Regions from separate parts of the Homo sapiens genome. Here region 1 is linked to region 2. The links come from fine-mapping of genetic effects on gene expression. A gene starts in region 2. The other region holds a variant in brackets. All regions are shown on one strand. Distances are between the middles of the regions.

What was found. PIP is the estimated chance that this variant, and not a neighbour inherited with it, causes the effect.
Region 1: its variant is the best candidate, but not a certain one, in a credible set for the expression of ANXA7 in whole blood (INTERVAL, PIP 0.80).

What each region holds. Positions count from the first base shown.
Region 1 is chr10:73,019,672-73,029,417 of GRCh38, reverse strand. All of the region lies in intron 10 of P4HA1 (prolyl 4-hydroxylase subunit alpha 1), which reads left to right. Among named protein-coding and RNA genes, the nearest start is that of PLA2G12B, 70 kb to the right of the region's middle. The variant G/T (reference allele first, on the strand shown) is at 4,952.
Region 2 is chr10:73,408,580-73,418,325 of GRCh38, reverse strand. It overlaps ANXA7 (annexin A7), which reads left to right and starts at 4,268. Exons shown (of 13, transcript NM_001156.5): 1 at 4,268-4,314. RefSeq lists silencers at 4,085-4,644, 7,588-7,795 and enhancers at 5,045-5,124, 5,135-5,254.

The sequences.
Region 1 (9,746 bases), 390 kb after region 2:
TTGAGATGGAGTCTGAGTCTGGCTCTGTGGCCCAAGCTGGAGTGCAGTGACATGATCTCGACTCACTACAACCCCTGTCTCCTGGTTCAAGCGATTCTCCTGCCTCAGCCTCCCAAGTAGCTGGGATTACAGGCATGCGCCACCACACTGAGCTAATTTTGTATTTTTAGTAGAGACGGGGTTTCACCATGTTGGCCAGGCTGCTCTTGAACTCCTGACCTCAAGTGATCCACCTGCCTTGGCCTCCCAAAGTGCTGGGATTACACAGGCGTGAGGCACTGTGCCTGGCCTGGTTGCAAAATTCTAAGACAGATGCAGTCAATATGCAGCTCATAAATTCATTAGAAAGGTGATACTTTTGCTTCTTTTCAACCTTTCTTTTTCTTTTTGAGACAGTCTCACTGGAGTGCAGTGGTGCAATCTTGGATCAGTGCGACCTCTGCTTCCTGGGCTCAAGTGATTCTCCTGCCTCAGCCTCCCAGGTAGCTGGGACCACAGGCACATGCCGCCACGGCTAGCTAATTTTTGTATTTTTAGTAGAGATGGGGTTTCACCATGTTGGCCAGGCTGGTCTTGAACTCCTGGCCTCAAGTGATCTGCCTGCCTTGGCCTCCCAAAGTGTTGGGATTACAGGCATGAGCCACTGTGTCTGGCCTCTTTTCAACTTTAAATAATAAACTGTTGTCCGGGTCTGGTGGCTCATGCCTGTAATCCCAGCATTTTGGGAGGCCGAGCCAGGTGGATCACCTGAAGTCAGGAGTTCGAGACCAGCCTGACCAACATGGAGAAACCCCGTCTCTACTAAAAAATACAAAAAAATTAGCTGGGCGTGGTGGCACATGACTGTAATTCCAGCTACTCGGCAGGCTGAGGTAGGAGAATTGCTTGAACCCAGGAGGTGGAGGTTGCGGTGAGCTGAGATTGCGCCATTGCACTCCAGCCTGGGCAACGAGAGCAAAACTCTGTTTCAGAAATAAATAAATAAATAAACTGTTAATTTATCAGAAGACCAAAATGTATTCTTAAAGACAGTTAATTCCCTTTTTCTAATTAAGTTTTAAAAATGTATTTTGTGTGTGTGTGTGTGTGTGTGTGTGTGTGTGTGTGTGTTTTACAGTGACACGGTTTGATGCCATCCTACTCCGTCTTTGTCAGAACACGTGGTCTTTTCTTCTGTTTTTTTTTCCTATCTCAAAATTATGAAAGCTTTTATTTATAACGCTTGCAGTTTTTTAAAAGTGAGATTCATAAAACTGTGTTCACCCAACACACTGAATCCTATCATGACTTGGCATGAAAAACAGCAACCCACTCAGAGTCCAGTAACACTGTGCCCTCCCCTGTGATGCACACCTGCCAGGTTTATTCAGTGTTTGACTGTTGTTCAGTATTCATCCAACAACATTTTTGATACATGTGGTGCTAAATGTTGGGAATGCAAACCTGAATAAGGTATCGTCCTGATTCCTGCCTAATGGTTTTCCTGGGTTTCACTGGCTATGATTTCTGATTCTTCCCTCCCTCCCTCTGTCCCTCCCTCCCTCCCTCTCTCCCTCCCTCCCCTCCTCTCTCCCTCCCTTCCTTCCTCTCTCTCTCCCTTCCTTCCTTCCATATTTCCTTCCTTCCATGTTTGCTTGCTTCCTTCCTTCCTTCCTTCCCTTCCCTCCCTCCCTGCATCCATCCTTCCCTCCTTTCCTTTCTTTCTTCTCTCTCTTCCTCCCTCCCACCCTCTTTATTTCTTTACTTCCTTCCTTCCTCTCTCCCTCCCCCCTCCCCCTCCCTGACTCCCTTCTTTCCTTCCTTCCTTCCCTTTTTTTTTTTTTATACTTTAAGTTCTAGGGTACATGTGCACAACGTGCAGGTTTGTTACATAGGTATACATGTGCCATGTTGGTTTGCTGCACCCATCAACTCATCATTTACATTAGGTATTTCTCCTAATGCTATTCCTCCCCCAGCCCCCCACCCTCCGACAGGCCCCGGTGTGTGATGTTCCCTGCCCTGTGTCCAAGTGTTCTCATTGTTCAATTTCCACCTATGAGTGAGAACATGTGGTGTTTGGTTTTCTGTCCTTGTGAGAGTTTGCTGAGAATGATGGTTTCCAGCTTCATCCATGTCCCTGCAAAGGACATGAACTCATCCTTTTTTATGGCTGCATGGTATTCCATGGTGTACATGTGCCACATTTTCTTAATCCAGTCTATTATTGATGGACATTTGGGTTGGTTCCAAGTCTTTGCTATTGTGAATAGTGCCACAGTAAACATACGTGTATATGTGTCTTTATAGTAGCATGATTTATAATCCTTTGGGTATTTACCCAGTAATGGGATTGCTGGGTCAAATGGTATTTCTACTTCTGGATCCTTGAGAAATCACCACACTGTCTTCCACAATGGCTGAACTAATTTACACTCCCACCAACAGTGTAAAAGCATTCCTATTTCTCCACATCCTCTCCAGCATCTGTTGTTTCCTCACTTTTTAATGATTGCCATTCTAACTGGCATGAGATGGTATCTCATTGTGGTTTTGCTTCGCATTTCTCTTATGACCAGTGATGATGAGCATTTTTTCATGTGCCTGTTGGCTGCATAAATGTCTTCTTTTGAGAAGTGTCTGTTCATATCCTTTGCCCACTTTTTGATGGGGTTGTTTTTTTCTTGTAAATTTAAGTTCTTTGTAGATCTGGATATCAGCCATTTGTCAGATGGGTAGATTGCAAAAATTTTCTCCCATTCTGTAGGTTGCCTGTTCACTCTGATGGTAGTTTCTTTTGCCATGCAGAAGCTCTTTAGTTTAATTAGATCCCACTTGTATATTTTGGCTTTTGTAGCCATTGCTTTTGGTGTTTTAGTCATGAAGTCCTTGCCCATGCCTATGTCCTGAATGGTATTGCCTAGGTTTTCTTCTAGGGTTTTTATGGTTTTAGGTCTAACATTTAAGTCTTTAATCCATCTTGAATTAATTGTTATATAAAGTGTAAGGAAGGGATCCAGTTTCAGCTTTCTACATATGGCTAGCCAGTTTTCCCAGCACCGTTTATTAAATAGGGAATCCTTTCCCCATTTCTTGTTTTTGTCAGGTTCGTCAAAGATCAGATGGTTGTAGATGTGTGTTGTTATTTCTGAGGCCTCTGTTCTGTTCTATTGGTCTATGTCTCTGTTTTGGTACCAGTACTATGCTATTTTGGTTACTGTAGCCTTGTAGTATAGTTTGAAGTCAGGTAGCATGATGCCTCCAGCTTTGTTCTTTTGGCTTAGGATTGTCTTGGCTATGTGGGCTCTTTTTTGGTTCCATATGAACTTTAAAGTAGATTTTTCCAATTCTGTGAAGAAAGTCATTGGTAGCTTGATGGGGATGGCATTGAATCTGTAAATTACCTTGGGCAGTATGGCCATTTTCACGATATTGATTCTTCCTATCCATGAGCATGGAATGTTCTTCCATTTGTGTCCTCTTTTATTTCGTTGAGCAGTGGTTTGTAGTTCTCCTTGAAGAGGTTCTTCACATCCCTTGTAAGTTGGATTCCTAGGTATTTTATTCTCTTTGTAGCAATTGTGAATGGGAGTTCACTCATGATTTGGCTCTCTGTCTGTTATTGGTATATAGGAATGCTTGTGATTTTTGCACATTGATTTTGTATCCTGAGACTTTGCTGAAGTTGCTTATCAGCTTAAGGAGATTTTGGGCTGAGACAATGGGGTTTTCTAAATATACAATCATGTCATCTGCAAACAGGGACAATTTGACTTCCTGTTTTCCTAATTGAATACCCTTTATTTCTTTCTCTTGCCTTATTGCCCTGGCCAGAACTTCCAACACTATGTTGAATAGGAGTGGTGAGGGAGGGTATCCTTGTCTTGTGCCGGATTTCAAACAGTGCTTCCAGTTTTTGCCCATTCAGTATGATATTGGCTGTGGGTTTGTCATAAATAGCTCTTATTATTTTGAGATATGTTCCATCAATACCTAGTTTACCGCATTTTCAGCATGAAGGGCTGTTGAATTTTGTCAAAGGCCTTTTCTGCATCTATTGAGATAATCATGTGGTTTTTGTCATTGGTTCTGTTTATGTGATGGATTACGTTTATTGATTTGTGTATGTTGAACCAGCCTTGCATCCCAGGGATGAAGCTGACTTGATTGTGGTGGATAAGCTTTTTGATGTGCTGCTGGATTCGGTTGGATTTTTGCGTCGATGTTCATCAGCGATATTGGCCTAAAATTCTCTTTTTTTGTTGTGTCTCTGCCAGGCTTTGGTATCAGGATGATACTGGCCTCATAAAATGAGTTAGGGAGGATTCCCTCTTTTTCTGTTGATTGGAATAGTTTCAGAAGGAATGGTACCAGCTCCTCTTAGTACCTCTGATAGAATTCGGCTGTGAATCCATCTGGTCCTGAACTTTTTTTAGTTGGTAGGCTGTTATTGCCTCAATTTCAGAGTCTGTTATTTTTCTATTCAGAGATTCAACTTCTTCCTGGTTTGGTCTTGGGTGTATGTGTCCAGGAATTTATCCATTTCTTCTAGATTTTCTAGTTTATTTGCATAGAGGTGTTTATAGTATTCTCTGATGGTAGTTTGTATTTCTGTGGGATCTGTGGTGATATCCCCTTTATCATTTTTTACTGTGTCTATTTGATTATTCTCTCTTTTCTTCTTTATTAGTCTTGCTAGCTGTCTATCAATTTTGTTGATCTTTTCAAAAAACCAGCTCCTGGATTCATTGATTTTTTGAAGGGTTTTTTATGTCTGTATCTCTTTCAGTTCTGCTTTGATCTGAGTTATTTCTTGCCTTCTGCTAGCTTTTGAATTTGTTTGCTCTTGCTTCTCTTGTTCTTTTAATTGTGATGTTAGGGTGTCGATTTTAGGTCTTTCTTGCTTTCTCTTGTGGGCATTTAGTGCTATAAATTTTCCTCTACACTGCTTTAAATGTGTCCCAGAGATTCT[G/T]GTACGTTGTGTCTTTGTTCTCATTGGTTTCAAAGAACATGTTTATTTCTGCCTTCATTTCGTTATTTACCCAGTAGTCATTCAGGAGCAGGTTGTTCAGTTTCCATGTAGTTGTGTGGTTTTGAGTGAGTTTCTTAATCCTGAGTTCTAATTTGATTGCACTGTGGTCTGAGAGACAGTTTGTTGTGATTTCTGTTCTTTTACATTTGCTGAGGAGTGCTTTACTTCCAATTATGTGGTCAGTTTTAGAATAAGTGTGATGTGGTGCTGAGAAGAATGTATATTCTGTTGATTTGGGGTGGACAGAGTTCTGTAGATGTCTATTATAATGGTCTGCTTAGTGCAGAGCTGAGTTCCAGTCCTGGATATTCTTGTTAACCTTCTGTCTTGTTGATCTCATATTGACAGTGGAGTGTTAAAGTCTCTCATTATTATTGTGTGAGAGTCTAAGTCTCTTTTTAGGACTCTAAGGACTTGCCTTATGAATCTGGGTGCCCCTGTATTGGGTGCATATATATTTAGAATAGTTAGCACTTCTTGTTGAATTGATCCCTATACCATTACGTAATGGCCTTCTTTGTCTCTTTTGATCTGTGTTGGTTTAAAGTCTGTTTGATCAGAGACTAGGATTGCAGCCGCTGCTTTTTTTTTTTTTTTTCTTTCCATTTGCTTCGTAGATCTTCCTCCATCCCTTTATTTTGAGCCTATGTGTGTCTCTGCACATGAGATGTGTCTCCTGATGGGTCTTGACTCTTTATCCAATTTGCCAGTCTGTGCCTTTTCATTGGGACATTTAGCCCATTTACATTTAAGGCTAATATTGTTATATGTGAATTTGATCCTGTCATTATGATGTTCGCTGGTTATTTTGCTCGTTAATTGATGCGGTTTCTTCATAGCATCGATGGTCTTTATAATTTGGCATGTTTTTGCAGTGGCTGGTACCAGTTGTTCCTTTCCATGTTTAGTGCTTCCTTCAGGAGCTCTTGTAAGACAGGCCTGGTGGTGACAAAATCTCTCAGCATTTGCTTGTCTGCAAAGGATTTTATTTCTCCTTTATTTAGAAAGCTTAGTTTGGCTGGATATGAAATTCTGGGTTGAAAATTCTTTTTTTTAAGAATGTTGAATATTGGCCCCCACTCTCTTCTTGCTTGTAGGGTTTCTGCAGAGAGATCCACTGTTAGTCTGATGGGCCTCCCTTTGTGGGTAACCCGACCTTTCTCTCTGGCTGCCCTTAAGATTTTTTCCTTCATTTCAGCCTTGGTGAATCTGACAATTACGTGTCTTGTGGTTGCTCTTCTCGAGAAGTATCTTTGTGGTGTTCTCTGTATTTCTGAATTTGACTGTTGGCCTGCCTTGCTAGGTTGGGGAAATTCTCCTGGATAATTTCCTGAATAGTGTTTTTCAGCCTGTTTCCATTCTCCCCGTCACTTTCAGGTGTACACCAATCAAACATAGATTTGGTCTTTTTAGATAGTCCCATATTTCTTGGAGGCTTTATTTGTTTCTTTCTACTCATTTTTCTCTAAACTTGTCTTCTTGCTTTATTTCATTAATTCCATCTTCAATCACTGATACCCTTTGTTCCACTTGATCAAATCGGCTACCGAAGCTTGTGCATGCACCATGACGTTCTTATGCCATGGTTTTCAGCTCCATCAGGTCATTCAAGGTCTTCTCTACACTGTTTGTTCTAGTTAGCCATTCGTCTAACCTTTTTTCAAGGGTTTTAGCTTCCTTGCGATGGCTTAGAACATGCTTCTTTAGCTGGGAGGTTTGTTATTACCGACCTTCTGAAGCCTACTTCTGTCAGCTCATCAAAGTCATTCTCTGTCCAGCTTTGTTCTGTTGCTTGTGAGGAGCTGCAGTCCTTTGGAGGAGAGGAGGTGCTCTGATCTTTAGAAGTTTCAGCTTTTCTGCTCTGGTTTCTCCCCATCTTTGTGGTTTTGTCTACCTTTGGCCTTCGATGTTGGTGACCTACAGATGGGGTTTTGGTGTAGATGACCTTTTTGTTGATGTTGATGCTATTCCTTTCTGTTAGTTTTCCTTCTAACAGTCAGGTCCCTCAGCTGCAGGTCTGTTGGAGTTTGCTGGAGGTCCATTCCAGACGCTGTTTGCCTGGGTATCACCAGCAGAGGATGCAGAACAGCAAATATTGCTGCCTGATCCTTCCTCTGGAAGCTTCATCCCAGAGGGGCACCCGCCTGTATGAGGTGTCTGTCGGCCCCTACTGGGAGGTTTCCCCCAGTTAGGCTACACGGGGGTCAGGGACCCTCTTGAGGAGGCAGTCTTTGGTTCTCAGAGCTCAAATGCCATCCTGGGAGAACCACTGCTCTCTTCAGAGCTGTCAGACAGGGACGTTTAAGTCTGCAGAAGTTGTCTGCTGGCTTTTGTTCAGCTATGCCCTGCCCACAGAGGTGGAGTCTACAGAGGCAGTAGGCCTTGCTGAGCTGTGGTGGGCTCCGCCCAGTTTGAGCTTTCTGGCCATTTTGTTTACCTAATCAAGCCTCAGCAATGGTGGACACCCCTCCTCCAGCCAGGCTGCAACCTCTCAGGTCCATCTCAGACTGCTGCACTAGCAGTGAGCAAGGCTCCATGGGCATGGGACCCACTGAGCCAGGCACAGGAAAGAATCTCCTGGTCTGCCAGTTGCTAAGACTGTGGGAAAAGCGCAGTATGTGGGCAGGATTGTCCGGTTTTTCCAGGTACAGTCTGTCATGGCTTCCCTTTGCTAGGAAAGGGAAATTCCCTGACTCCTTGTGCTTCCTGGGTGAGGCGATGCCCCGCCCTGCTTTGGCTCATTCTCTATGGTCTGCACCCACTGTCCAACCAGTCCCAATGAGATGAACCAGGTACCTCAGTTGGAAATGCAGAAATCCCACATGTGAGTGAGAACATGTGATATTTGTCTATGCTGGGCTTATTTTACTAATATAATGAACTCCAGTTCCATCCATGTGATAAGATTACATTCTTCTTATGGCTGAATAGTGTTTCATTATATATAAGCACCACATTTTCTTTATCCATTCATCTGTTGATGGACACTTAGGTTGATTCCATATGTTAGCTGTTGTGAATAGTCCTGCAATAAACATGGGAATGCGGATATCTCTTCATCATGCTAATTTCCTTTCTTTTGGATATATACTTGGCACTGGGATTGCTGGATCATATGGTAGATCTATTTTTAGTTTTTAAGGGAACCTCTGTACTGTTCTCCATAGTGATTGTACTAATTTACATTCCCACCAGCAGTGTATGAGCATGCCCCTTTCTCTTCATCCTTGCCAGTGTCTGTTATTTTTGGGTTTTTTTGTTTGTTTTTTCTTGAGATGTAGTCTTACTCTCTTGCCCAGGCTGGAGTGCAGTGGTGTGATCTTGGCTCACTGCAACCTCCACCTCCTGGGTTAATGCAGTTCTCCTGCCTCAGCCTCCTGTGTAACTGGGATTACAGGCCCCTGCCACCATGCCCAGCTAATTTTTATATTTTTAGTAGAGACAGGGTTTTACCATGTTGGCCAGGCTGGTCTCGTACTCCTGACCTCAGGTGATCCATCCACTTTGGCCTCCCAAAGTGCTGGAATTACAGGTGTGAGCCACTGTGCCTGGCCAGGATGCTGAATTTTTTTGAAAGCTTTTTCTGCATTTGCAGAGATGATCATATGGTTTTTAATTCTGTTTATGTGGTGAATTACATTTATTGAACCAACCTTGCACCCCACAAATAAAGCCTAATTGATTATAGTAAATTAACTTTTTGATGTGCTGCTAGGTTTTGTTTTCTAGTATTTTTTTGAGTATTTTGTGTCTGTGTTCATCAGGAATATCAGCCTGAAGTTTTCTTTTTTCATTATGTCTGTGATGAGTTTTGGTATCAGAATGATGATGCTGGCTTCATAAAATGAGTTAAGGAAAGATTCGTTCTCAATCTTTTGGAATAATTTCAGTAGGATTGATACTAGCTCTTTGTATGTCTGGTAAAATTCAGCTGTGAATCCATCCAGTCCAGAGCTTTTTTTGGTTAGTAGGTTGTTTTTTTGTTTTTTTGTTTTTAATTAAAATTGAATTTCAATTTCAGAATTCCTTATTGGTCTGTTCAGGGTTTCAGTTTTTTTCTGTTTCAGTCTTGGGAGGTTGTGTGTTTCCAGGAATTTATCCATTTCTTCTAGGTTTTTTATAAAAGTTTGTGTGCATAGAGGTGTTCATAATAATCTCTGAGGACTTTTTATATTTCTTTGGGGTCAGTTGTAATGTCACCTTTGTTATTTCTGATTGTGCTTATTTGGATCTTTTTTCTTTGTTAATCTAGCTATCTTGCTGTTTCTAGAATTCTTTATTTGTCTTTGATGTTTGACAATCTGACTGAAATGTGCTTCAGAGGGGACTTTTTTTGGTTGAATCTATTTGGGGACTTTTGAACTTCCTGGAGTTGGATACCCTTATCTCTTCCCCAGACTTGGGTAGTTTTCAGCTATTATTAAATAGGTTTTCTGTGCCTTTTACCTTTCTTCTCCTTTTGGAACTCCTGTAATACAAATGTTTAATGGTGTCCCAGAAGTCTTGTAGGCTCTCTTTATCCTTTTTCATTATTGTTTCCTTTTTTTTTCCCCTCTGAGTAATATTAAATAATGTATCTTCAGGTTCAGAGATTGTTTTGCTTAATCAAGTGTGCTGGTGCAGCTTTGTATTGTATTTTTAATTTCATTCATTGAATTCTTTTTTTTTTTTTTTTTCTGAGACAGAGTCTCGCTCTGTCGCCACGCTGGAGTGCAGTGGCAAGATCTTGGCTCAC
Region 2 (9,746 bases):
AAGTAGTTGGCTTGGGTTTTGGGGGCCCTATTGTAGTCAATCAGACAATCAATTATTTATCAAACACTCACTACTAGGCTCTAAAGATATCCCTGTTCTCAAGGAGCTTACATTCTAGATGGGGACAGAAACAGTAAACACACAGAATTTCAGATGCTTTTTTTTTTTTTTTTTTTTTTTTTTTTTTTTTTTTTGAGACGGAGTCTCGCTCTGTCGCCCAGGCTGGAGTGCAGTGGCGGGATCTCGGCTCATTGCAAGCTCCGCCTCCCGGGTTCACGCCATTCTCCTGCCTCAGCCTCCCAAGTAGCTGGGACTACAGGCGCCCGCCACTACGCCCGGCTAATTTTTTGTATTTTTAGTAGAGACGGGGTTTCACCGTTTTTAGCCGGGATGGTCTCGATCTCCTGACCTCGTGATCCGCCCGCCTCGGCCTCCCAAAGTGCTGGGATTACAGGCGTGAGCCACCGCGCCCGGCCAGAATTTCAGATGCTTTTAAGTGGTATAAGGAAAATTAAATAATGAGCATAGCTGCTAGTGGTGGTTGTGCTGGTGGCAGCTACTAATGTTCAGGAAATACCTTGAGGAGATGACATTTTTTGTTTGTTTTTTTGAGATAGGGTCAGGCTCTGTCACCCAGGCTGGAGTGCAGTAGTGAGATCTTGGCTTACTACAGCCTCTGCCTCCCAGGTTCAAGTGATTCTCCCCTGTGAGCCTCCTAAGTAGATGGATTACAAGTGCACACTACTATGCCTGACTAATTTTTGTGTTTTTTGTAGAGATGGGGTCTCGCCATGTTGCCCAGGCTGGTCTCCAACTCCTGGGTTTCAGTGATCTGCCTGCCTTGGGCCTCCCAAAGTGCTAGGATTATAGGTGTGAGCCAACTCACCCAGCCAGGAGACCACATTTGAGATGACACCATGGAGAACATTCCCAGTAGAAGCAATAGCAAGTGCCAAGGTCCTGAGAATCTGGTGCATTTGGTCACAAGCTTGGTATGTTTGGACCGAAGGCCACTGTGTTCAGAGGTTAGTGATTAAGGAAAGTGAAGGCCAGGCGCCGTGGCTCACGCCTGTAATCCCAGCACTTTGGGAGGCCGAGGCAGGTGGATCACGAGGTCAGGAGATCAAGACCATCCTGGCTAACATGGTGAAACCCCGTCTCTACTAAAAATACAAAAAAATTAGCTGGGCGTGGTGGCAGTCACCTTTAGTCCCAGCTACTTGGGAGGTTCAGCCAGGAGAATGGTGTGAACCTGGGAGGCGAAGCTTGCAGTGAGCTGAGATTGCACCACCGCACTCCAGCCTGGGCGACAGAGCAAGACTCCGTCTCAAAAAAAAAAAAAAAAAAGTGAAAAGGGATTAGATGAGCGATGTAGGCAGGGACCAGATTATCTAGGGCTTAATAGACCATCAGGAGTTTGGATTTTATTTTATTCTGGTTCCAGTGGGAAGCTATTAAAAAAGTTTAATCACGGGAATTACATGACCCAATTTATTCTTTAGAAAGATCACTCTGACTCAGGGTTTCTTAACCTCAGCACTATTGACTTTTTGGGCTGAATAATTCTTTGTGTAGGGACTGTAGGCATTGTAGGATACGTACCTTGTTTAGAATCCTTGGCTTTCACCCACTAGATGCTAGTAACCCCACCACCTCCCCTCAGTTGTGACAAACAAAGATGTCTCCACACATTGTCAGGTGTCCCTGAGGGACAAAATTACTATTCTAATGGAACAAAAAGGATATGAACTTAAATACCAGACTCTGGGCCAGGCGTGGTGGCTCACACCTGTAATAATCCCAGCACTTTGGGAGGCCGAGGTGGGTGGATCACCTGAGGTCAGGAGTTCGCCTGGGCAACATGGCAAATCACCGTCTGTATTAAAAATATAAAAATTTAGGCCGGACGTGGTGGCTCATGCCTGTAATCCTAGCACTTTGGGAGGCTGAGGCGGGTGGGTCATGAGGTCAGGAGATCGAGACCATCCTGGCTAACACAGTGAAACCCTGTCTCTACTAAAAATACAAAAAATTAGCCAGGCGTGGTGGTAGACACCTGTAGTCCCAGCTACTCGGGAGGCTGAGGCAGGAGAATGGCGTGAACCCAGGAGGCAGAGCTTGCAGTGAGCCGAGATCGTGCCACTGCATTCCATCCAGCCTGGGCAACAGAGTGAGACTCTGTCTCAAAAAAAAAAAAAAAAAAAAAAAAAAAAAAAGCTGGGCGTGGTGGCGGATGCCTGTAATCCCAGCTACTTGGGAGGCTGAGGCAGGAGAATTCGTTGAACCTGGGAAGCAGAGGTTGCAATGAGCTGAGATTGTGCCATTGCACTCCAGCCTGGGCAACAGAATGAGACCCTGTCTCAAAACTACAAAAACAAACAAAAAAAAACCAGACTCTGATACAGTGGGATGTTCACATTAGAAGCATGATGGCTCTTATTTCACATGAACTCTGGAACATACCATGGCCTTCAGAGATGTTGACCAGGTATGGTGGCTCATGCCTGTAATACATCCAGCACTTTGGGAGGCTGAGGCAGGTGGATCGCTTGAGGCCAGGAGTTCGAGACCAGCCTGGCCAACATGGCGAAACCCCATCTGTACTAAAAATACAAAAAAATTAGCTGGGCGTGGTGACATGCCTCCCAGCTACACGGGAGGCTGAGGCATGAGAATCGCTTGAACCCCGGAGGCAGAGGTTGCAGTGAGCCTAGATCGCACCACAGCACTCCAGCCTGGGTGACAGAGCAAGACTCTGTCTCCAAAAAAATTAAAAAATTAAAATGGTCCAGTTGAGTACAAAAAAGAAGATCAGGAAGAGTTTATTGGAGCAAGACGGAGATGAGCAACCTTGAAAACAAGTCTAATTAAGATGAGTAATTGTTAAAAGATGAGCAGTGCTTTCTAAGCAGAGGTAGCAGGAGGAAAGGGTCTCCGATCCTGTAACGCCTTTTATGCCAGGAAGAAAGGATGAATTGAAAGGATGAAATGGCAAATGTCGTAGTAGACTATTGGACTATTCCTGCAGCTCAGGAAAGTGGGCTGGAAATAAGAGGTTTGGCAAATACCCTGTTATGGTGGTATTTAAGGCAGAGGGAGGGTTTGGAACGAGCTCACAAAGGGAACTCTAGAATGAACAGAGTAGGCTTCTCAGGGAAGGCTTAAATCCTGGAGGTCTCTGGGGTAGGTAGGACAGAAAGTCCTGTTATTTTCCAGGTAGACAGACTGTTGGGCGCCGGGGAATTAATGCTGGTCACCTAGAGAGTTGTGCATTTTGTCTACCATTGTTAAATGAGGCAATGACCTGCCTCAAATACTTTTCACTCCACACACCTATTTGGAAGCCACGTATATTTTGCTTGCTCTTCCCATTTAAAATCGTAATCCACTCTATTCCACCCCCATGAGGAAGCTTTTGGGTAGAAAAGTGTGTAGAGGAATAAGTAAGTTGATGTGCATCAGATGTGCAAACTTTAGTGTGCATCAGAACCACCTGGAAGGCTTGTTAAAACAGGTTGCTGGGCACCACCCGGGGAGTTTGATTCAGTAGGTCTAAGGTGGAGTTCAATAATCTGCGTTACTAACACGTTTCCAGGTGATGCTGCTGTTCGGGGGACCACACCCAGAAGCTACCTTTTACCACTCTAAAAGGTAGCTGATTGGTTTTCTCTGTAATATAAATTCCTTAACGAGTTTAAAATATTGATCTGAGCCCTCGTAATTGCCTCAAATGTTTAATGCTAATGTGTGTTCAATGCTGTAGCCACGAGGGGAGCCTAAAATCACCTAACAACTCCTTTCGGGAGTGATTTTGATTAGTTCATCTACAGTTCCAACTAAGATTTCCCACAAATATTACTTTCACAGGAGGCTAACAAAAAACGCCGTCTTTGTCCCCAGAAAATACCTGGAGGACGGTATTTCAGAGGCGGGGAGGCTGCACCAGCCTCCCAGTCTCAGCCCTTCTCTACCGCCCGCCACTGAAGGGGCCCCGGATACCCCCAGGACTGCTGCAACTTCCTAGGTGACTTGAGGCAGCCTTAAAAGGGATTGGTGCAGGGTCCTTGCGACAGATAAATGTGATTAAAAATCCGCTGGGCCACCCGAAGGGAGAGTCTTTTTCCCTCAGGTGGCGCCTAGGGGCGGGACTGAGGGACAGCCCGCTCCCCGCAGCGCCCTCTCCGGCTCCGGGGGTGTTCCCGGCTGCAGCCGCGATCCTAACGGGCTCGCGAGACGCCCCGCCCACCCTGGGCCCGCCCCCGGCTCCATCTTGCGGGAGACCGGGTTGGGCTGTGACGCTGCTGCTGGGGTCAGGTGAGGAGCGGCGCCCCCCTCCCTTTCCCACCTCGTCTGCCTCGGTGGTCTTGCCCTCGGCCAGCTCTGGGCGCTGCTGTCCCGGTGCTAGTGGGGCGCGGCTGGAGGGCAGTGTGGGCCTCCCGGATGGCGGCGACTCGGTTTGCGCGTCTCGTAGCCGGGCTGCCGGCCGGGGTGTGTTGGGGTGGCGTGGGTGAGGCGGCCGGCCTGGCTTACGGGAAGCCCTTCCGTCCGTTTGGAAATCCCAGGGACCAGTGGCGCCCCGCCCTCGGGCAGGTGGAGGGGCTGAGGCCGGAGCGTGGCCCAGCTGCCTCGCGGGAGGCTGAGTAGGGAAACGCACGGGCAGTGCTGAAAGCCGTCTGGCTGGTAGTGGCTGTACTTTCCGGTGACACAGCGAATTTAGGGAAACTTGGGGAAATTTTTACTGTGTTTAGTGAACCGTAGGACAGAATGCGCCAGGCCAAGGTCGTACACTGGTTCTCGTTTACAGTTCTTGGAAGCTATTCTAGAATAGCATTCCAGATTTGATTGCTGTTCCCCGACCAGCAGCAAATCTGTGTTGAAATTAGCTCATCCTGTGCAAACACTGCGCAAGGAAACCAAGGTGCAGAGGTAGATGGCTGATGTCCACCGTAAAGTGACAGACATGACGCTGTTGTCTTCCGACTGCCGTAAACGCCCTGATTTTTGCCAGCTGATGGCCAGCTAATCTGCTAAATGTGTCCGAATTAGATGATGAGTGTAATGAGTTACCTTCCAGGCAAGGAAAGAGTTTCAAGCACTGAATAGGTAAAAGAGATAATTTTGGCCACTGCAAACTTTCAGTCCTTTTCAGTGAGGACTGTCTTTCAGTCCTCACTGGTGGTTGGCTACCTACCTGTCCGTGCAGAGGACTAGCCATGCCTCCATGTTCTTTCTCCACATCACTGACGGATTTAAATGATCCTACCATACCTAGAAGCCGGTTTTGCAAAATTGTATTCGCTGTTGCGCGTATCTTCAGTCACCCTTCCTGTTTCGTGTATTTTTTCCCCCATAAATTTGCAACAGCTGCCTCTTGGGTTCCTGGGCTTCATGCCATCAATGAGAAACGGTGAGACCCAGCCCTTTTACTAACTGACTCACTGGGTGGAGGTGGTTTGGAAAACCAAAAATGATTTTCTAGTCTTTTAAAAGTGATTGCTAACAGAGAATGTTTAAAAAAAAAAAAAAAAAAGCCCGAGCGCGGTGGCTCACTCCTGTAATCCTAGCACTTTGGGAGGCCGAGGCGAGAGATTCACGAGGTCAGGAGGAGTTTGAGACCAGCTTGACCAACACGGTGAAACCCCGTCTCTACTTAAAAATACAAAAATTAGCTGGGCGTGGTGGCGCGCGCCTGTAATCCCAGCTACTCTGGAGGCTGAGGCAGGAGAGTCGCTTGAACCCGGGAGGCAGAGGTTGCAGTGAGCCAAGATCGCCACTGCACTCCAGCCTGGGCGGCAGAGAGAAACTCTGTCACAAAAAAAAAAAAAACCCAAAAAACTCTAGACTTACTATTCACTTGGGCAAAGTTGAGAAATTTTTTGAGTCACTCTGGGTGTTATTTAGCTTTTTACAAAAACGTTTAAAATCTGCCTCTTGAATAAATGATATATGTACAATTCTAAAAGGGCTAAAGTACATTGAAAAGTAAGTCTCGGCCGGGCGCAGTGGCTGTCGCCTGTAATCCCAGCACTTTGGGAGGCCTAGGCGGGAGGATCACGAGGTCAGGAGATCGAGACCATCCTGACTAACACGGTGAAACCCCGTCTCTACTAAAAATACAAAAATTAGCCGGGCGTGGTGGCAGGCGCCTGTAGTCCCAGCTACTCAGGAGGTTGAGGCACAAGAATCTCTTGAACCCCGGAGGCGGAGGTTGCAGTAAGCTGAGATCGTGCCACTGCACTCCAGCCTGGCAACAGAGCGAGACTCCATCTCAAAAAAAGAAAAAAGAAAGGTAAATAGTCTTCTCCATTGTGTCCCAGCTCTTCATCCAGGAAGCAGTCACTGTTTTCTACTTCCTTGAGTGTCCTTTCAGGGATATTCTATAAGTCAAAATCAGTGCATTTTTTACACATAATGGCAGCACACTATGCAGTTTTTCACTTTGCCTTTTTTTTTTTTCATTAATACGTGTTATAGATGGTTTCATATATGGGTAAAAGAAAAAGCTGCCTCATTTTTAATAACCACATAACACCTCCTTGTATGGCTATCCATAATCTGTTTCACCTGTCCCTCCTTTTTAAAAATTTAAGCAATGGCCCCGCACAGTGGCTCACGCCTGTAATCCCAGCACTTTGGGAGGCCGAGGTGGGTGGATCACCTGAGGTCAGGAGTTCGAGACTAGCCTGGCCAACATGATGAAACCCTGTCTGTACTAAAAATACAAAATTTAGCCGGGTGCGGTGGCACGTCCCAGCTACACGGGAGGCTGAGACAGGAGAATCGCTTGAACCTGGGAGGTGGAGGTTGCAATGAGTGGAGATCACACCACTGCACTCCAGCCTGGATGATAGAGCAAGACTCCATCTCCAAAAAAAAAGATAAAATTTCAACAGCTTTTGGAGTACAAGTGGTTTTTTGTTACATGGATGAATTATATGGTGGTGAATTCTGAGATTTTAGTCACCCAAGTAATGTACATTGTACCTAATGTGTAGTTTTTGATTCCTAGCCCCCTTTCACCCTCCCCTTTCTGAGTCTCTAAAGTCCATTATATCACTTCATACCTATGTCTTTGCATACTCATAGCTTAGCTTCCACTTACACAGTGAGAACATACGGCTTTTGGTTTTCCACCCCTGTATTACTTCACTTAGAAAAATGGCCTCCAGCTTCATCCAAGTTGCTGCAAAAGACATTATTTTGTTCCTTTTAATGGCTGAGTAGTATTCCATGGTTTATATATACCACATTTTCTTTATCCACTCAGTTGATGGGCACTTAGATTGGTTCCACATCTTTGCAGTTGTGAGTTGTGCTGCTATAAATATACATGTGCAAAAGTCTTTTTCATATAATGACTTTCTTTCCTTTGGGTAGATACCCAGCAGTGGAATTTCTGGATTGAATGGTAGATCTTTTTTAGCTCTTCAAGGAGTCTCCATACTGTTTTCTGTAGAGGCTGTATAGTAGTGTAATAAGCGGTCTCTTTTCCCCACATCCACACCAACATCTATTGTTTTTTGACTTTTTTTTTTTTTTTTTTTGAGATGGAGTCTCGCTCTCGTTGCCAGGCTGGAGTGCAATGGCGTGATCTCAGCTCACCCCAACCTCCGCCTCCCGGATTCAAGCAATTCTCCTGACTCAGCCTCCCAAGTAGCTGGGATTACAGTCACACGCCACCATGCCCAGCTAATTTTGTTATTTTTGGTAGAGACGGGTTTCTCCATGTTGGTCAGGCTGGTTTCAAACTCCCAACCTCAGGTGATCGCCCGTCTGGGCCTCCCAAAGTGCTGGGATTACAGATGGGGGCTACCGCGCCCGGCCCATTTTTTGACTTTTTAAGAATAACCATTCCTGTAGGAGCACGGTGGTATCTCATTGTGGTTAATTTGCATTTCCCTGATGATTAATGATGTTGAATTATTAATGATTATTTCATGTTTTTTGGCCATTTGTGTATCTTTTGAGAAATGTCTATTCATGTCCTTTGCTCAGTTTTTAATGCAATTGTTTTTTTTTCTTTGTGATTTGAGTTCCTTGTAGATTCTGGATACTAGTCCTTTGTTGGATGCATAGTTTGCAAATATTTTCTCCCATTCTGTGGGTGGTCTGTTTACTCTGTTGATTATTTGTTTTGCTGTGCCGAAGCTTTTTAGTTTAATTAGGTCCCATCTATTTATTTTTGTTTTTGTTGCGTTTGTTTTTGGGGTCTTAGTCATGAATTTTTTGCCTAGGCCAGTGTTTAGAAGACTGTTTCCAATGTTCTAGAATTTTTATAGTTTCAGGTCTTATATTTAAATCTTTTATCAACTTGAGTTGATTTTTGCATTGGATGATAGTTAGGGATCCAGTTTCATTCTTCATGTGGCTTGCCAGTTTTCCCAGCATCATTTATTGAATAGGATGTCCATTCCCCAATTTTTGTTTTTGTGTGCTTTGTCAAAGAGCAGTTGGCTGTATGTATTTGGCTTTATTTCTGAGTTCTCTATTTTGTTCCATTGGTCTATGTGCCTACTTTTAAACCAGTACCATGCTGTTGTGGTAGCTATAGGCTTGTAGTGTATTTGAAGTCTGGTAATGTGATGTCTCCAGATTTGTCTTTTTGCTTAGAATTGCTTTGGCTATTCAGGCTGTTTTTTGTTCCATATTAATTTTAGGATTGTTTTTTCTAATTCTGTGAAAAATGATCTTGGTATTTTGATGGGAATCGCATTGAATCTGTAGATTGCTTTGGGCAGTATGGTCATTTTCACAATATTGATTCTTTCAATCCATGAGCATGGGATGAGTTTCCATTTATGTCATCTGTGATTTCTTTCAGCAGTATTTTGTAGTTCTCCTTGTAGAGATCTGTCATCTCCTTGGTGAAGCATATTCCTAGGTATTCTATTTATTTTTTATTTTTGCAGCTATTATAAAAGGGATTGAGCTCTTGATTTGATTCTCAGCTTGGACGTTTTTGGTATATAGCAGTGCTACTGATTTGTGTACATTGATTTTGTAACCTGAGACTTTACCGATTTCATTTATCAAATCTAAGAGTCTGTTGGAGTCTTTAGGATTTCCTTGGTATATAGTCATAATATCTGCAAACAGTGATAGTTTGACTTCCTCTTTTCCAATTTGGATACACTTTATTGCTTTCCCCTACTTTCCCTCTGGCTAATACTTCCAGAACTATGTCGAATAGGAGTGGTGAAAGTGGATGTCCTTGTCTTGTTCCTGTTCTCAGGGGGAATGCTTTCAACTTTTCCCCATTCAGTATGATGTTGGCTTTGTCGTCATATATGGCTTTTATTATTTTGAGTTAGGTCCTTTCTATGCCTCATTTGTTGAGTTCTTTATTGTAAAGGATGCTGGATTTTGTTGAATGCTTTTTCTGCATCTGTTGAGATCATATGGTTTTTGTTTTTAATTCTGTTTATGTGATACATCACATTTATTGACTTGCATATGTTAAATCATTCCAGCATCCCTGGGATGACACCTGTCCCTTATTGATGGACATTCACATGGTTTTTAACCTTTTCCTATTACAAAAATGCTGCAGTGAATAGCCTTGTACATATATAATTTTGTCCTTGTGCAAGTATTTCTATAAGGTACATTCCTGGAAATGGAATTGCATTCTAGTCTTTTATATAATTATTTTTCAAAATGTACCAAAATTCACTTTCTTAAAATAGCTTTAATTTTTATTATATACAGATAATCTTTGCCTTATTTTCATTTTTGTTGACATAATT